Linked DNA regions of Homo sapiens. The protein of the gene in region 4 purifies or fractionates together with the protein of the main gene of each other region. This does not show direct contact. Each region holds a gene or a part of one and is shown on either strand. Other genes may lie near its edges.

Region 1 (3,500 bases), on a different chromosome or scaffold from region 4:
CTTAACTTTCTATTATAGTTAGCTTTCTCTTTAACTGTCTGTACTTAAGGTAGTATAAGTTGATATCAGTGTGTTTCTCATCACTTTTCACTGGGCCTAATTGTTGCTCCAACACTGAAAGGAGGCATTTATTAGTTATATTTGCTGATATAACTTTCATGTTCTCATAATAATTAACCTGCTGTCAACGTAAACCATACTTCATGGGGTAGCTCTCAGCCTGCATTGATGTGGGCTTTTTGGGTAGGGTTGCTTCATTGGTTGCAGTGGACTCATATCATAAAATTCTTACTCCTTTTTTTTTTTTTTTAAGAGATGGGGGTGTCATTCTGTTGTCCAGGGTGGAATGCAGTGGTGTGGGTAAAGCTTACTGCAGTCTCAATCTCCTGGGCTTATGCAATCCTCCCACCTCAGCCTTCACAGTAGCTAGGACTGAGGTGGGAGGGCTAGCAAGCTATGTTGCCCAGACTGGTCTCAAACGATCTTCCTGCTTCAGTTTCCCAAAGCACTGGGTGAGGTGTGAACCACCTCACCCAGCAAATTCTTACTCCTACGATCATTTATTCAGGTCATACTATGTTTGTAAGGGTAAACTGATAAAAAGGTAAATGTATTCTTCTTAGAGAAACAGCTGAAAGCCCAGATTTATTGCTTCTATTCTTCCATTTCTATGACAGGAAAACACCTCTTTGAGGTTATATTTTTCAGATCACAAGTGTGTAAAGTCTGTTTGTGTTTACAGATATTTTCTGACGAAGATTCAAACTTCAGTTATCCACTTCCAAACCCTAGTAAACCAATTTTTTCCCTTTAATGGTGAAAGTTGTCACATCTTTTATTCTCATATCTTCAAAGGTCTTAATTTCCTAATGCTTTAATGTTAAATTATGGAGAATAGTAGGACATTCTTCTTTTCTATAGTATATGCTTGCTCAAGAGAAGTTTCTAAGACTGGACACTGTGAAATGACAAAACAAGGAATTAAAAATATTTCTCTCACTTATATATTATTTCTGGCTCAATTCTCCAACTTTTGAGTCTAGAAATGAACTTGCATATCAGATATAATTTAAGAAAATATTCTCAGGAACTGCTGGGAAGATTCTAAAACTATTTTACTGTTTTTAGCTATAAGGAAGAGAATAATGTATTATTTAATGTTATTTTAAACATAGTGTTGTTTCAAATAGTAAATAACATTTCACAAGACATTTGAAAATAAGCTTTGAAGTTGACTCAAAATTCTATGCTAAACATGTGATCCATAGATACACTGATGACTGCTGGCATTTCTGTGGAAATGAAGAATTGTTTTATTTGTTTGTAATTATTTGGGTTTCAGTTGCTTTATTTTTAAGAAAAAAAAGCTGAAGTGTCTGGGAATCCTTTATGACATACAGACATTTTAATTATTTCAAACACGTTTTCCCCCTTAAGTGGGTAGCAAAAAAAATAAAGCATACTTCAGGCTCATATTTTTAACCATGCAACAAGAAAATTGTTACAATTTCTGTTCTGAGGAGTAGCCTTCATACTTAGTATTTATAAATATTGAAATGTATGTTAATTTGGGGAAAACATAACAGATATCCATGAAGGCTTGTATGTCATGGTAGGTAGTTACTATTCGATACCACAAAAATGTCTCTTGCCCTTAAAACCAGAACACGAGGCTCACCAGACAGATGACTGAATGGAGTATGGAAAATCTTTATTTCTGTTTTTCTTAGGCTATGTAGGACTTAACTTATTGTGCATTGGTAACAGATTGTAGAACATAAGCTGAAAGATAAAATTCTTGACCTTAATGTCTCATCTTAAAAAGAAGCATTGGTTGACATTCTATATCTCGTATTACTTAAAAATAATGGGGGAGCGCAGTATATATTAAACAAAGATTGGCTTTGTGGTGATCATTGTTGAAGGTGGGGTGATGGCTATGTGAAGGTTCACTATATATACTCCCTACTGTTGTATAAGTTTGAAATTGTGCATAATAGATTTATTTAAAACACAAAGCATAGAAATATCTACTATAATATTATGGTGAGAGCAAAATTTGAGGGGGATGTACACCTGCATTTTCGAAGAATATATACATTTCGGAGACCGAATTCAAAATGAAAAACCGGGCTGCTGTCCCGCACGGAGCCTCTGGGCGCCGCTGTCGGCCAGTGCAGAGCAAGCGCTGACGCCGGGGATCCGTCAGCCTCTGGCCTGGGATTCCCTGCGCAGCCAACAACAGAAAGAAGAAAACCAGCTCCCACACAGAGCCTCCCGGCTGCGCAGACCTTTCCCAGCACAGCGGATTGCCAGCTCCGAGACCCGGGACTCCTCCTGTCCTGGGCCGAATGCTCTTTTAGCGCGGTAGAGTGCACTTTCTCCAACTGGAAAAGCGGGGACCCAGCGAGAACCCGAGCGAACGATGGGAGGGAGCTGCGCGCAGAGGCGCCGGGCCGGCCCGCGGCAGGTGCTATTTCCTTTGCTGCTGCCTTTGTTCTACCCCACCCTGAGTGAGCCGATCCGCTACTCGATTCCGGAGGAGCTGGCCAAGGGCTCGGTGGTGGGGAACCTCGCTAAGGATCTAGGGCTCAGTGTCCTGGATGTGTCGGCTCGCAAGCTGCGAGTGAGCGCGGAGAAGCTGCACTTCAGCGTAGACGCGGAGAGCGGGGACTTACTTGTGAAGAACCGAATAGACCGTGAGCAAATATGCAAAGAGAGAAGAAGATGTGAGTTGCAATTGGAAGCTGTGGTGGAAAATCCTTTAAATATTTTTCATGTCATTGTGGTGATTGAGGATGTTAATGACCACGCCCCTCAATTTGATAAAAAGGAAATACATTTAGAAATTTTCGAATCTGCATCCGCTGGTACACGACTATCGCTTGACCCTGCCACGGATCCTGATATAAACATAAACTCAATTAAAGATTATAAGATAAACTCTAATCCTTATTTTTCATTAATGGTTAGAGTTAATTCCGATGGTGGCAAATACCCAGAGTTATCTCTGGAGAAACTCCTAGACCGGGAAGAACAGAGATCTCATAGCTTGATATTGACTGCCTTGGACGGAGGGGACCCACCAAGAAGTGCCACCGCTCACATAGAAATTTCTGTCAAGGATACCAATGATAACCCCCCGGTTTTCAGCAGAGACGAATATAGAATTAGTCTTAGTGAAAATCTGCCCCCTGGGTCCCCTGTGTTGCAAGTGACAGCCACTGACCAGGATGAGGGGGTCAATGCTGAGATAAACTACTACTTCCGAAGCACTGCCCAGAGCACAAAACATATGTTCTCATTGGATGAGAAAACAGGTATGATTAAGAATAACCAGTCATTTGATTTTGAAGATGTAGAAAGGTACACCATGGAAGTGGAAGCGAAGGACGGAGGTGGTCTCTCTACCCAGTGTAAAGTAATCATAGAAATCCTTGATGAAAACGACAACAGCCCAGAAATAATCATCACTTCTCTCTCTGATCAGATTTTGGAGA
Region 2 (3,500 bases), on a different chromosome or scaffold from region 4:
CAGTGGGCCCAGAAGACAGCAAGGCAAGTCACACAAGACATTTCAGAAATGAAACAAAAAGGAGGAACTGTTCCATGAAAGTTTTGTTTAAGATGCTCGCACGTGGCCAGGCGCGGTGGCTCACGCCTGTAATCCCAGCACTTTGGGAGGCCGAGGCAGGCAGATCACCTGAGGTCGGGAGTTCAAGACCAACCTGACCAACATGGAGAAACCCCGTCTTTACTAAAAATACAAAAGTAGCCGGGCGTGGTGGCGCATGCCCATAATCCCAGCTACTCGGGAGGCTGAGGCAGGAGGATCACTTGAGCCCAGGAGGTTGAGGCCGCATAAGCCATGAGGGAGCCACTCCAGCCTGGGTGACAGAGCAATGCCCTGTCTCTAAAAATAAAAAGAATTTAAAGTATCTCTCGAAGGCACTGATCAGTCACAGGAGGAAAGGCAGTGGCGTCACAGTGGAGAGGGTGGCAGACGGCGCCTGTGACAGGACGCTCCTGGCAGGCCCCACGGCATCTCCCTGCATTCCTGCCAAAACTGTAGGACTTCAACCACAAGAAACCACCAGACAAGCCCCAACAGAGGACGTCCTGCAGGAGCCTGGCCAGACCCTCAGACCACCAAGAACCCAGAGAGACGAGGGGACAGTCACAGACGGGAGAGGGCTAAGGAGACAGAGGGCTGAGGGCCACGCAATCCTGGACCAGTGAGGAAGACGAAAAGGGCAGGGCGGAAAAGCAGACCCTGCCTGGAGGTGCTGGGCCAGAGCTAGCGTCCGCAGGTACACAGGACCACCTCACCAGGGAGCCCCGTCCGGTCCTCGTAACTCCTCCGCAAACCTGACACTACTTGAAATCACCAGGTAAAAAGAGAAAAGATGCGGCCCACCCAGGCACTCGTGTCCTGCTTGTGAAGCTGCTGGGTTTGTGAGGACCTCGAGGGCCGAGGACTCCCAGCCCCCAGCTTGGCAGGGACAAGCAGCGCCCCATGGAGGCTCACGGAGGGGACCCAAGCTGTGTCCTGCCCTCGTGTCTCCAAGGGAGGGAGAGGAGCTGAGACACCGGAGCCAGAGACCCACTGGCCAGTGGCCGCCCACCTCGGCCCGCCCACCTCAGCCCATGCTGCATGAGCCTGGAATGGGTTTTACATTCCTAAATTGTCAAAAAGAAACACAAGAATCACATCTCATGCACGTGGTAGCTGCACAGAATTCATACTTCATGTCCACAAACAAGGCGTTCCAGAGCAATGCACCCTTCAGAGGGAGCCGCCACCCGCCAGCCTGCCCCACCAGCACCCCAAGGCCACCCCGAGAGCAAGCGTACCTGACCACTTGGCACTGCTGGAGCAGAGGGAGGAGCTCGGCCCATCTAGCGTCGCTCAGCTCCTCACACTGGATGTCCAGGCTCTGGATGTCCAGGCTCATGGTGGAGGTGAAGAGTGGCCTGGGTGGGAGGCAGAGGGAAGAGGACGTCTTGGCCGAATCCCCTCACAGTTTCACAGGCCGGAGATTCTGCAAACAGGACCCACAGGGCTGATGTTTCAGGAGGAGCCGCAGCCTCTCCCTGGGCAAACACTTCCTCTTCAGCACCCTCCCCACCTTTGTCTCTGGAGCAGACATCAGGGGTGGGGCAGGGGGCAGGGACCAGCACCCACCCCCAGAAAGGCCACCATGGGCAGCAGAGCTTGGGTAATGCAGATGCCAGCCCATCTCCTGGCTATCACCACCCAGCCTCTGTGGGCACCTCCTCCTGCCCCACAGAGGGCGGGACAGCAGCAGCCCGGGAAGCCCCTGCCTCTCATTTGCTTGGGCAAGGACAGGGTAGGGTGGGGTGGTCTGTGAGCCTGGAGGCCCCAGCAGGGGAGCAAGGGGGTCTGTGGGCTTGACCTGTGTCTCACCCTCAGGACAGGCAGACTGTGCGGGCCAGGCAGGCTGCCCACAAAGCCAGAGACCTCCCAGGATGCCAGGATCCTGGACCCGGCCACAGTGTCCGAAGCAAGACAGAGCAGGGGGGCGGCCACTTGGGGTGTCAGCTTCCATGGCCCCCTTCTGGGGTTGGGGACTCTGCACCAGGCTACAGCACATCCCCTGCCCCACGGCACACTAGCCCAGAGGCTGGGCTACCAGGCAAGCTGGGTGGGTCAGCCTGGGATGGGCACAGCTGCTACACCCTGAAGCCTCCCCAGGCACAGGCCCTGAATATGGAAGGAGGTTCCTGAGGCCCTGAGAGCACAGCTCAGGTACCCGCCAGGGGCCTGGGGAAAGTGGTCAGGCAGAGACAGCCACCCCAAACCTTGGTTGGTGGATACATTCCCTGAGCACCTGCCAAGCACTGGCCTGGGGACTACAGCAGGGCAGGAACCTGGAGAGGAGGCTTGGATGGCCAGGAAGGCTCCCTGGAAGCAGCAGCACTGATGCCACAATGCGGGGAGGGGTGGGTGGGGTGGGGAGAGGGCTCTCATCCAGAAGCCCCAGAAAGTTGGCAGGATCCACTTGGGGAAATGATGCAACCCCAGCTGCCCTTCAGAAAGACGGCCAACAGGACCGCTTGAGAGGCTCCTGGTGCCCTGACACCCCCAGCTTCCTGAGTCTGTGTGCCTGGCACTCCTCTCCCCGGGGCTGCTTCAGAGGCGGCTGGTCCACTCTGCATGAGTGGAGGCAAGAGGCCCCTGGTACCAACTGGGAGGAAAGACGCAAGGCTGGGCTCGGGTCCACACGCCTGGGCGCCCGGCCTGCAAGGACAGTGGCAAAGGGTGGTGACATCCCACGGCCCCACATGGAGGAACTGAATCCAACCGACCCGAAGCACGTGAGCAAAACCGACCAGGGTGTGGTCACCCAAATTCTGACTCCAGAATCTAGTCATCAGGAGGCACTGTGGGCGGGAGGGCGGGTGGAAGGAGAGCCTCAGGGGGCTGCCCAGGGTGCACACGCTCCCCAAATCCAGCCTGACACTCCTGTGTCCTCTGCAGCCAGATGAAAGGTGGCCCCAGGGTGTCCTCCTCCTGGGAAAGCTTGGTGGGAGCTCAGGGTGGCCAGTGCTCCCGTGACCATCTGCAACTAGCGCTGCGGGAGTAGCCCCGTCCCTACCCCTCAGGCTTGGCCAGACCCTGTTGTATCCCAGAAAGGCCCTTCTGAATCTCTGTGGGTCACGGATCCCACTGAGGACCCCATGAAAATGCGGGAGTAAACGCCCTTCTCTGTGACTGGAGAAGTCCCTGGCTCCCTACACAGCCAAAGCTAAAAGCACATTCAGGAACCCACTACCACCAGCTGGCAGCCTGCTTTGGTTGAGGCAGGGATCTGAACAGAGGCCCTAACGGTCCCTTATCCGGAGACCAGACTTTCTCAACCTTACGGAGGGAGGTCTCCGCAGCACCCAAGGCCTGGGCCCCACCCTGGGGAGCCACATGGGAGGGGCCGTCTGGAGGCCAATTCAGGTCCTTATGTTCCGACGTGACGGGGGCGCGGGGCCACCCTCTAGGGAGACACGGGCCACGCTCAG
Region 3 (3,500 bases), on a different chromosome or scaffold from region 4:
CACTAAGCCTCACTCTCCTCCTCTAGAAAATGGGATGGATAATAGAATCTACCCCATGGTTGTACAGAGTAAATGCGATCATGCGTGCCCAACGCCTGCTTAATAACTGTTATTATCATGATGATGGTGATTAATCTTCATGGGTTGTGGACCATTATGTGATCGGATTGAAAAGGTTCTGGCTCAAAGCCAGAAGATCTGGGCGTGCATCCCGCCTCTGACCCACATTAGCTCTGGGACCAGGGTGTGGTCATCTCTCCACTCAGACACTCTGTTTATCCGTCCCTAAATAGAGGGGACCGTCCCCACCATGACAGAGCTGATGGGATTCAGGGAAGTAACCCATGTATGTATTCTGTACGAAAGACAGCCTGAGCAAACCTGGGAGCCTCCCATTGCTACATTAATTAATTGGAAGGAGGTTGCCAGCCAGAAACCAATTACAAAGTCCCTCCAGGGGCCTCTGCGGGGGCAAAAAGGAGGGATGAGGAAGGGCGGTGGTGGCTTCTCCCCCACTCCCCACCCCCACCCCACTTGTGCCTCCTTAGCAGCTGGTCCCGCACTCCAGGCCCACAAAGGAGAGGCTCATTCTAAACAGCTACTTTTCATGTGGAAGCCACTGGATTTGCATCTGTCCTTCCCTGGCAAGGCCTGCCCCATGCCAGCTGCCCCAAGCTCCCCAGGCTGCAGGGTGCTCCAGGACCCTGGGCCTGAGCCTGCAGGGCCTACAGGGGAAGGAATGGGAACCCAATGGGGCTGATCAGGAAAAGAGGGAAGGAGACAGGGCTGGGCGCAGAGAGAATCTGCACACGTTCTCATCTCCTGGACACCAGATAAGCTCTGTGGCCAGGCATATCCAAATCAGAGTCAGGGCTGCCCGGGTGCCAGGAGCCGAGACTCCACCAGCCCTGGCCCTGGCGGAGGCTGTGTCTGCTTCAGCTAGCTGGCCTGGGAGAGAAGTGGAAAAACTCACTCCATCCCTGAGCTGCCAGGACATTGGCCCAGCCAGCGCCCACACTCCCAACCAGCCAAACTCAAGTGTGTGCCAACCTCACAGGGCTGGCCACTGTGGGGTGATTCTGGGAGCCCTGGAGAGCCTCAAACCCTTCCCAGCTTCCTCTAAGAACTGCCATAGGTGTCAAGGTGGCAGTGCCTCGGGGGAGGGGAACACAGGGCCTCTGGGCACAGTCCAGAAGAAAGCACCTGACAGCGCTTTTCTGGAGAGTGAGCTTCATTGCCTAGAGGGAGAGACAGTAAGGAAGGAAAGAGCCTGCATTCATTAGGCACTTACAGTATGCAGGCAAGGCAAGAGGTCTCCTGGCTCATGCCCACTGGACCTCGAGACTCTGAACTCAAGGCTTTGGCCTTTCCATGTCCTTCTCCTCTAAGGTCCTGGATCCCAGGGACTGTGGCTAATGCCACTGTTTTCCTAATGCCTCACACAGGGCCTGGCCCAGAGTAGGTGCTCAGAGGGTGCTGGCTAAATGAACGAATGACTGCTAGCCGCACACCTCCCAGCATGAGAATGCTGGATATCTGGAAGAAGGCCGGGAAGGGAGAGGAGGCATAATGGGTGTGTGGGCAGAGCAGGCAGAGCCCTTGCCCACCCGCAAGTGGGCTCCCACCCGGGAGCTGGGTCTGTGCTGGTACCCCCGCTTCCTCTTCACCAAGGCTTCCTGAGGTGCTGGCTCTCTTACTTCCTCTCCCAGGGAGACCCAGACAGGAACGAGGTGCTGGGATGTAGAATGTCTGGAGGTTCAGGTATCTCCTGGGTACCTAGATTCTGCGTCAGGGAACTGGAGGCAGAGGGGCCTCATAATCCCCCTCGCCATCTGACTGTAGGTATAGCAAGGCTCCTATGGACTTTGCTCCCCTGCCCCACATCCTGTCCCTCCTCCCACTCCCGCAATGCTTCTTCCATCTAGGGCAGATGGTGTCCCACAGAGGGAAATCCAGGCACCAGCAGGACAGGAAGGGGCGATGCAGTGGGGTAAGTGGAGTGGGGCCAAAACATTTGTGCCTGCTCAGAATGCCCCAGGACCCCTTGCCAGGGCAGCCGGGTGGAAAGAGCACTGACCATGAGTCAGGACCGAGGTGCCAGCCCCTCCAGCCTCAAACTTACTGAATGACTTTGGGCAAGTTACAACTTCTGCTCCCAGCGTCTCAGTTCCCTCATTTCTCAAGGGAAAGGGTTGGGTGATTTGCCCGCTCCAAAATTTTATTCTCCTATGGGTGACTCTGTAGGGGCCCTAGAGACACATGATCTTTGGAAAATGCAGGCCTGCTATTACCTGGGCAGGATAACATCATCCTCAGTCCTTTCACATTCAGCAGGAGCCACTGGCTCTTATCAGCAGGCTGTGCCCTGCTGGAGCTGAGGCAGGAGAGGGAAGGCTGCCTGCAGAAAGAGGGGCCAGGGCACAGTTGATCGTGCTGCCCACGGACCTACAATCTATCTGCTTAGCAGGGAGGAGCATGTTGGCATGAAAGGTCTTCTCTTTTCCCACACTCCCTCTCCTAAGGCCTTCTAAGGTGCAGCAGGCAATTGTGCTGCTCAGGGTACTTTGCTCCTGGACCGCTGACCCCCCTGAGCCAGGCTCAGGAAGGTAAAAAGCATTCAGCTCACTAGCGTCTAACTTAACACAGCACACCTCAAAATAGGGGAGCCTGGTCACTATAAGCCACCTCCTCCCTTACCTGGAAGACCCACCTCTGGGTCACATCACAGCCAGCAGCCAGGAAATCACCCTAAAGGGCCTCTGAGCAGTACAAAGCGGGTTGCAAGGGCCTAGACTTTAGCTCACAGGTTTTCTTATAGCCCATTAACTTGTACTTTACACACGACTCTATTAATGTACCTTGTCCTCTGCTTTTCCAGTTGATAGCAATGTAGAAACAGATATTTAGAACTGGAGAAGCACTGCTAGTCTGGTACATGACTGAGATGGAACAGAACAAGAAAATTATACAAAGCAGTCAGAAGAACCTGAAGAATAAAATCAGCTGGAGCTACTCGTCTCAGGGAAAGCAGCCTTGGCTCCCTCGCCCCGAGCTGCCCTAGGAAGCACGTTGGACTGAGAGGAGGCAGCACCTTGACCTCCTGTGCATGCTCAGGGCCCTGCATCAGAGCCTTCCTTCCCTCCACTCTTTCTTCCCTTTTTCTGGCTTTCTTCTCTTTCTCATCCTATAAAGAAAGTAAGGTAACTTACTAAATTACATACAATCAAATAAAGTTTAAAACATAGCCAGGAGAAATGCCACAGGGCTAGAAGTTCTCCGGGGCTCTGTGTTCCTAAGGCTAGTTAGGGCAGGAGTCCTTCAGAAACCACAGGGTTTGCCGGCAGCTTTAGCAGCTGTGCCTCATGGTTAAGGGGGCAAGGGGATGTATGAAAGAGAGGCGGAAAATGGAAAACAGGCTCACCTCCTCTACAGAAGTGCTACTGAGGATCTAGCAACTTGCCATCTGCTTTCCTCTTCTCCACTTGCCAGGCCTCTCTGAG
Region 4 (4,037 bases):
CCTTTCCCCATTGAAAAAAAAAACAAAAACGGAGAGTCACATAACAAGTAGATAGAAAATAGTCAAAATTTAGTTTGGGTCCCATAAACATCAGCCCTGGTAACATTATGAAACCTGTAAATAAAAATTAAATGACAACAACTGCAAATAGTTTGAATAAAAATTACTTTGGTGCTGGAACTGGTCTTCCCGAGTGCTAACAAAATGAGTTTTACAGAGGCTCAATATTTCTAACATGCTTACCACAAAAAAAACATCAACTCTTCTTTTCTGGATTCTTTTGTTTCAAAGCTTGCATCATACAAAGCATAGCGACAATCTTTTTCAGGAAGCATTCCCACAAAATGCTTGAAAGGATCAGTTATGGTTACACCAACATCTCCAACCAAGATCTCTTTGCCTTCTTCTACAATGATGCACTTTTTGTCTGCACTGAGACAAAAAATGACAGCCTTCTTTCTTTTCTTGATTTCTTCTGGTGTGGAGCATTTACGAACTTTCATGTCATAAAAAATGCGACATACTTCATCAGCTACTTGCACTCCTGAGGCCTATGATGAGAAAATACATGAGAAAAAGACTTACAATTTTTATTGTGCCAAACATAAAATAATAAATTCTGCTTATAGATTGGCATATATTTAACATTTTAAAGGTATATCATCTAATTAAAAAACTAGAAATTTGAGCTGTAATCACTACTAATTTTAGACATCAAACTTTTTAAAAGATCACAAATATATGCCATTCCTCACTACTGCACAGGGGTAAGGAAACATTCAACTATAGCAGCCTCTCCTACCCTAGAACCTTAAAAGAAGTGTTTCCTAAGGTGCTGGGTTATTTTCTTCTTATACAGGTTGCTTAGAGCCTTGACTACAGGCAGATCATCTTCCCAGTGTGTATATTCATGATACCTAAAATTCCTTTTGTAATACACAGTAGCTGGTCATAGCTGCTAGACTGGGAAATTTCCATCCCTACAGCATCTCTTTCTCTAATAAAAAAAAAGATTTATTAAGAGGTCTTTGCTCTACTCACATTTCAAAATTATGTGATCAATATTCAGTATTAGTCACACTTGCCATTAAAATTTCACTTAAAAATTCCAAATTTTAAACTAAGATTAGAATAAATAAGAAAATGTCTACTGCTATAATAAAGAGGGTAGCTTAATTAGGGATTATACTGACCAGAAAAATTACCTTTCGCTATGTTATACTTGCTATTCTGGGCTGAAGGACAGTTAAACAAAATCTTGATAGCACAAGATCTTAAACCAGTTTTTAATTTTTTCATCTTGAGGAATGTGCTATTTACATTAACTTTATTATATCCATAATTGTTAATGCCTCATTAACTACTTTGTTTTGCATGTTAGCTTTTCTAAAGCAAGAATTATAAAGCCCAACAAGAGATGCCCAGGAGGCTCTGCCAGTCATGGTTGAACAGCACTGGAGGATGATCAGACTAAGGGAAGAATGTAGACAATCAAATGTGTGATTGCAGGAGATGTGGCTGTAGACAAAGCCTGCCTCCCCATCAGTTATACAACAAATGCCTTTCCTAAGGAGTATATGCCCAATGTCTTTGACAACTACAGCACCCAGACATCTGTGGATGGCCAAATCATCAGCCTGAACCTGTGGGACACCACTGGCCAAGAGGAGGAATATGACCAACTGCGACTGTTCTCCTATCCCCAAGACCAATATCTCTGTCATTTGTTTTTCCATTGGCAACTCATCCTCTTAGGCCAATGTGAGGCATAAGTGGTACCCAGAGGTCTCCCATCATTGCCTCAATGTATCTGTTATGCTGGTAGGCACCAAAAGGGACCTGTGGAGTGACCATGAGACAGTGAAGAAGCTGAAGGAGCAGAGCCAAGTGCCAATGACTCCTCAGCAAGGCCCTTCCCTGGCTAAGCAGGTGGGAGCTGTGAAGTATCTGGAATGTTCAGCCATGATGCAGGATGGGGTGCATGAGAGATGGGGTCTCGTTATGTTGCCCAGGCTGCAGCCTAGTGGCTATTAACAGGAATGATCATAGCACACTACAGCCTTGAACTCCTAAAATTGGGCAGTCCTCCTGCCTTGGCCTCCCAGATAGCCAGGGCTGCAGGTGCATGACAAAGCGGCTGGTTACTTCATTCTTTTTACTGTTGAATAATGTTCCATTGTTTGGATATCCCACATTTTCCTTATCTATTCATCAGTTGATAGACATTTGGGTTGTTTCCACTTTTTGACTATTAACACTGCTATAAACACTCGTGTACAAGGTTTTGTGTGGGCATGTTTTTAATTCTCTTGGGTAGAAAACTAGGAGTGGAATTGTTGGGTCATATGGTCAATTTATGTAAAACCATGCTTTGAGTCAAGAATGGTATCTTTAGGCTGGGTAGTAGCTATGCCTGTAGTCTCAGCACTTTAGAGGGAGAGGGCAGGAAGATCACTTGAGTTCAGGCGTTTGAGACCAGTGTGGGCAACATAGGGAGACCGTGCCTCTAAAATTTTTTTAATAAAAAGGGAAAAATGAATCATAAGCAATAGAATTTAAATACTAAACAATGGAAAAATATTAATGATACCCAAATGTCAAATCATTTAAGAAATAAAAATGCATATAAGATGAAGATAACCAACAGAATGAGAGAAAACATCCAAAAATCCTACAAGGAACTTGTCAGAATAAAGAACCCTTACAACTCAATTATAAAAAAAGGCAAATACTTCAATTAAAAAACAGTTTTAAAGGATTTAAATAGACAGTTCTCCAAAGATGTATAAATGGTTAATAAGGACGTGGAAAAAATGCTCAACATCAATAGTGATTAGGGAAAAGCAAATCAAAACCATAATGAGATACCTCTTCACTTCAAAACCATAATGAGTCACCCACTAGGAGGGCTAAAATAAAAAAGATGGACAATAACAAATGTTTGTGGGGCCATGGAGAACTTGGAACCCTGATATGCTACTGTAGAACTGTAAAAGGGTACAGCTGCTTTGGCAAACAGTTTGGCAGTTCCTCAAAAAGTTAAACATAAAGTTAACACCTGACCTAGGAATTCCACTCTTAGGTATATATACTCAAGAGAAATGAAAATGTGTCCATACCAACACCTGTACACAAATGTTCATAGTAACATTATTCAAAATAGACCAAAAGTGAAAACAATCCTAAAGTCCATTTAGTGATGAATAGATTTTTAAGATGTAGTATATCCACACAATGGAATATTTCTTGGCCATTAAAAAAATGAGGTACTGATACATGCTACAAGGATGAACCTTGACAAACACTGTGCTAAGTGAAAGAAGCCAGACAGAAAAGGGCACCTATTGCATGATTCTATTTATATGCAATGTTCAAATTGGGTAAAATCAACAGACAGTAGGTAGATTAGTGGTTTCCAGAGGTTGAGAAAAAAGGGGAATGGGGAGTGACTGCTAATGAGTATGGGTTCCTTTCTGAAGTAATGAAAATGTTCTGGAAGTTGACAGGAGTGATGCATACACAACTGTGAATATACTGAAAAACCACTGAATTGAACTGTACTTTGTGGTATGTGAATTATACCTCAATAAAGTTATTACAACAAATACCATGTGTTCGCACTTAGGAACTAAATAATGTGTACACCTGGACACAGTGTGAAATAAAAGACAATGGAGAGCCAGGGGAGGATGAGGAATTAATTAATGGGTAGAATGTATGTTATTCGGGTGATGGATACCCTAAAAGATCTGGCTTCACTGCTACCATCCATGCATGTAGCAAAATTACACTTGTACCCCCATACATTTATACAAACAAATAAAAATAAAGTTGTCACTTTAAAACACATGCAAGAATCCTGGGAGAAAGATACACTAAGATCCTAGCATTTACTTAATATTAAGGTAACTGGGCTATTTCATCATCTCATTCATTAAAGATCTCTAAATAACACACTCCAATGCCATCTACTCCACATTTTCTGTTCATAAATGAACATTCACTCTAATAAAGTGGCAGAAACAGAAAATTAGGAC

What was found.
Region 1: the proteins of DSTN (region 4) and PCDHGA9 purify together in Homo sapiens (co-immunoprecipitation; one large-scale study listed by IntAct). This does not show direct contact.
Region 2: the proteins of DSTN (region 4) and RNH1 fractionate together in Homo sapiens (co-fractionation; one large-scale study listed by BioGRID). This does not show direct contact.
Region 3: the proteins of DSTN (region 4) and CORO2B purify together in Homo sapiens (co-immunoprecipitation; one large-scale study listed by IntAct). This does not show direct contact.

The regions. Positions count from the first base shown.
Region 1 is NC_000005.10:141,405,778-141,409,277, forward strand, and holds part of PCDHGA9 (protocadherin gamma-A9 isoform 1 precursor), read left to right. Parts: intron 1-2,243; exon of another isoform or gene 2,244-2,425; coding exon of another isoform or gene 2,426-3,500. Other genes in the region: PCDHGB6 (protocadherin gamma-B6 isoform 1 precursor), read left to right, coding at 2,426-3,500. UniProt on the Homo sapiens protein: Potential calcium-dependent cell-adhesion protein. May be involved in the establishment and maintenance of specific neuronal connections in the brain.
Region 2 is NC_000011.10:500,743-504,242, forward strand, and holds part of RNH1 (ribonuclease inhibitor), read right to left. Parts: intron 1,508-3,500; 5' UTR 1,421-1,507; coding exon 1,320-1,420; intron 1-1,319. UniProt on the Homo sapiens protein: Ribonuclease inhibitor which inhibits RNASE1, RNASE2 and angiogenin (ANG). May play a role in redox homeostasis. Required to inhibit the cytotoxic tRNA ribonuclease activity of ANG in the cytoplasm in absence of stress.
Region 3 is NC_000015.10:68,581,993-68,585,492, reverse strand, and holds part of CORO2B (coronin-2B), read right to left. Parts: intron 1-3,500. UniProt on the Homo sapiens protein: May play a role in the reorganization of neuronal actin structure.
Region 4 is NC_000020.11:17,597,252-17,601,288, reverse strand, and holds part of DSTN (destrin), read right to left. Parts: intron 552-4,037; coding exon 244-551; intron 1-243. UniProt on the Homo sapiens protein: Actin-depolymerizing protein. Severs actin filaments (F-actin) and binds to actin monomers (G-actin). Acts in a pH-independent manner.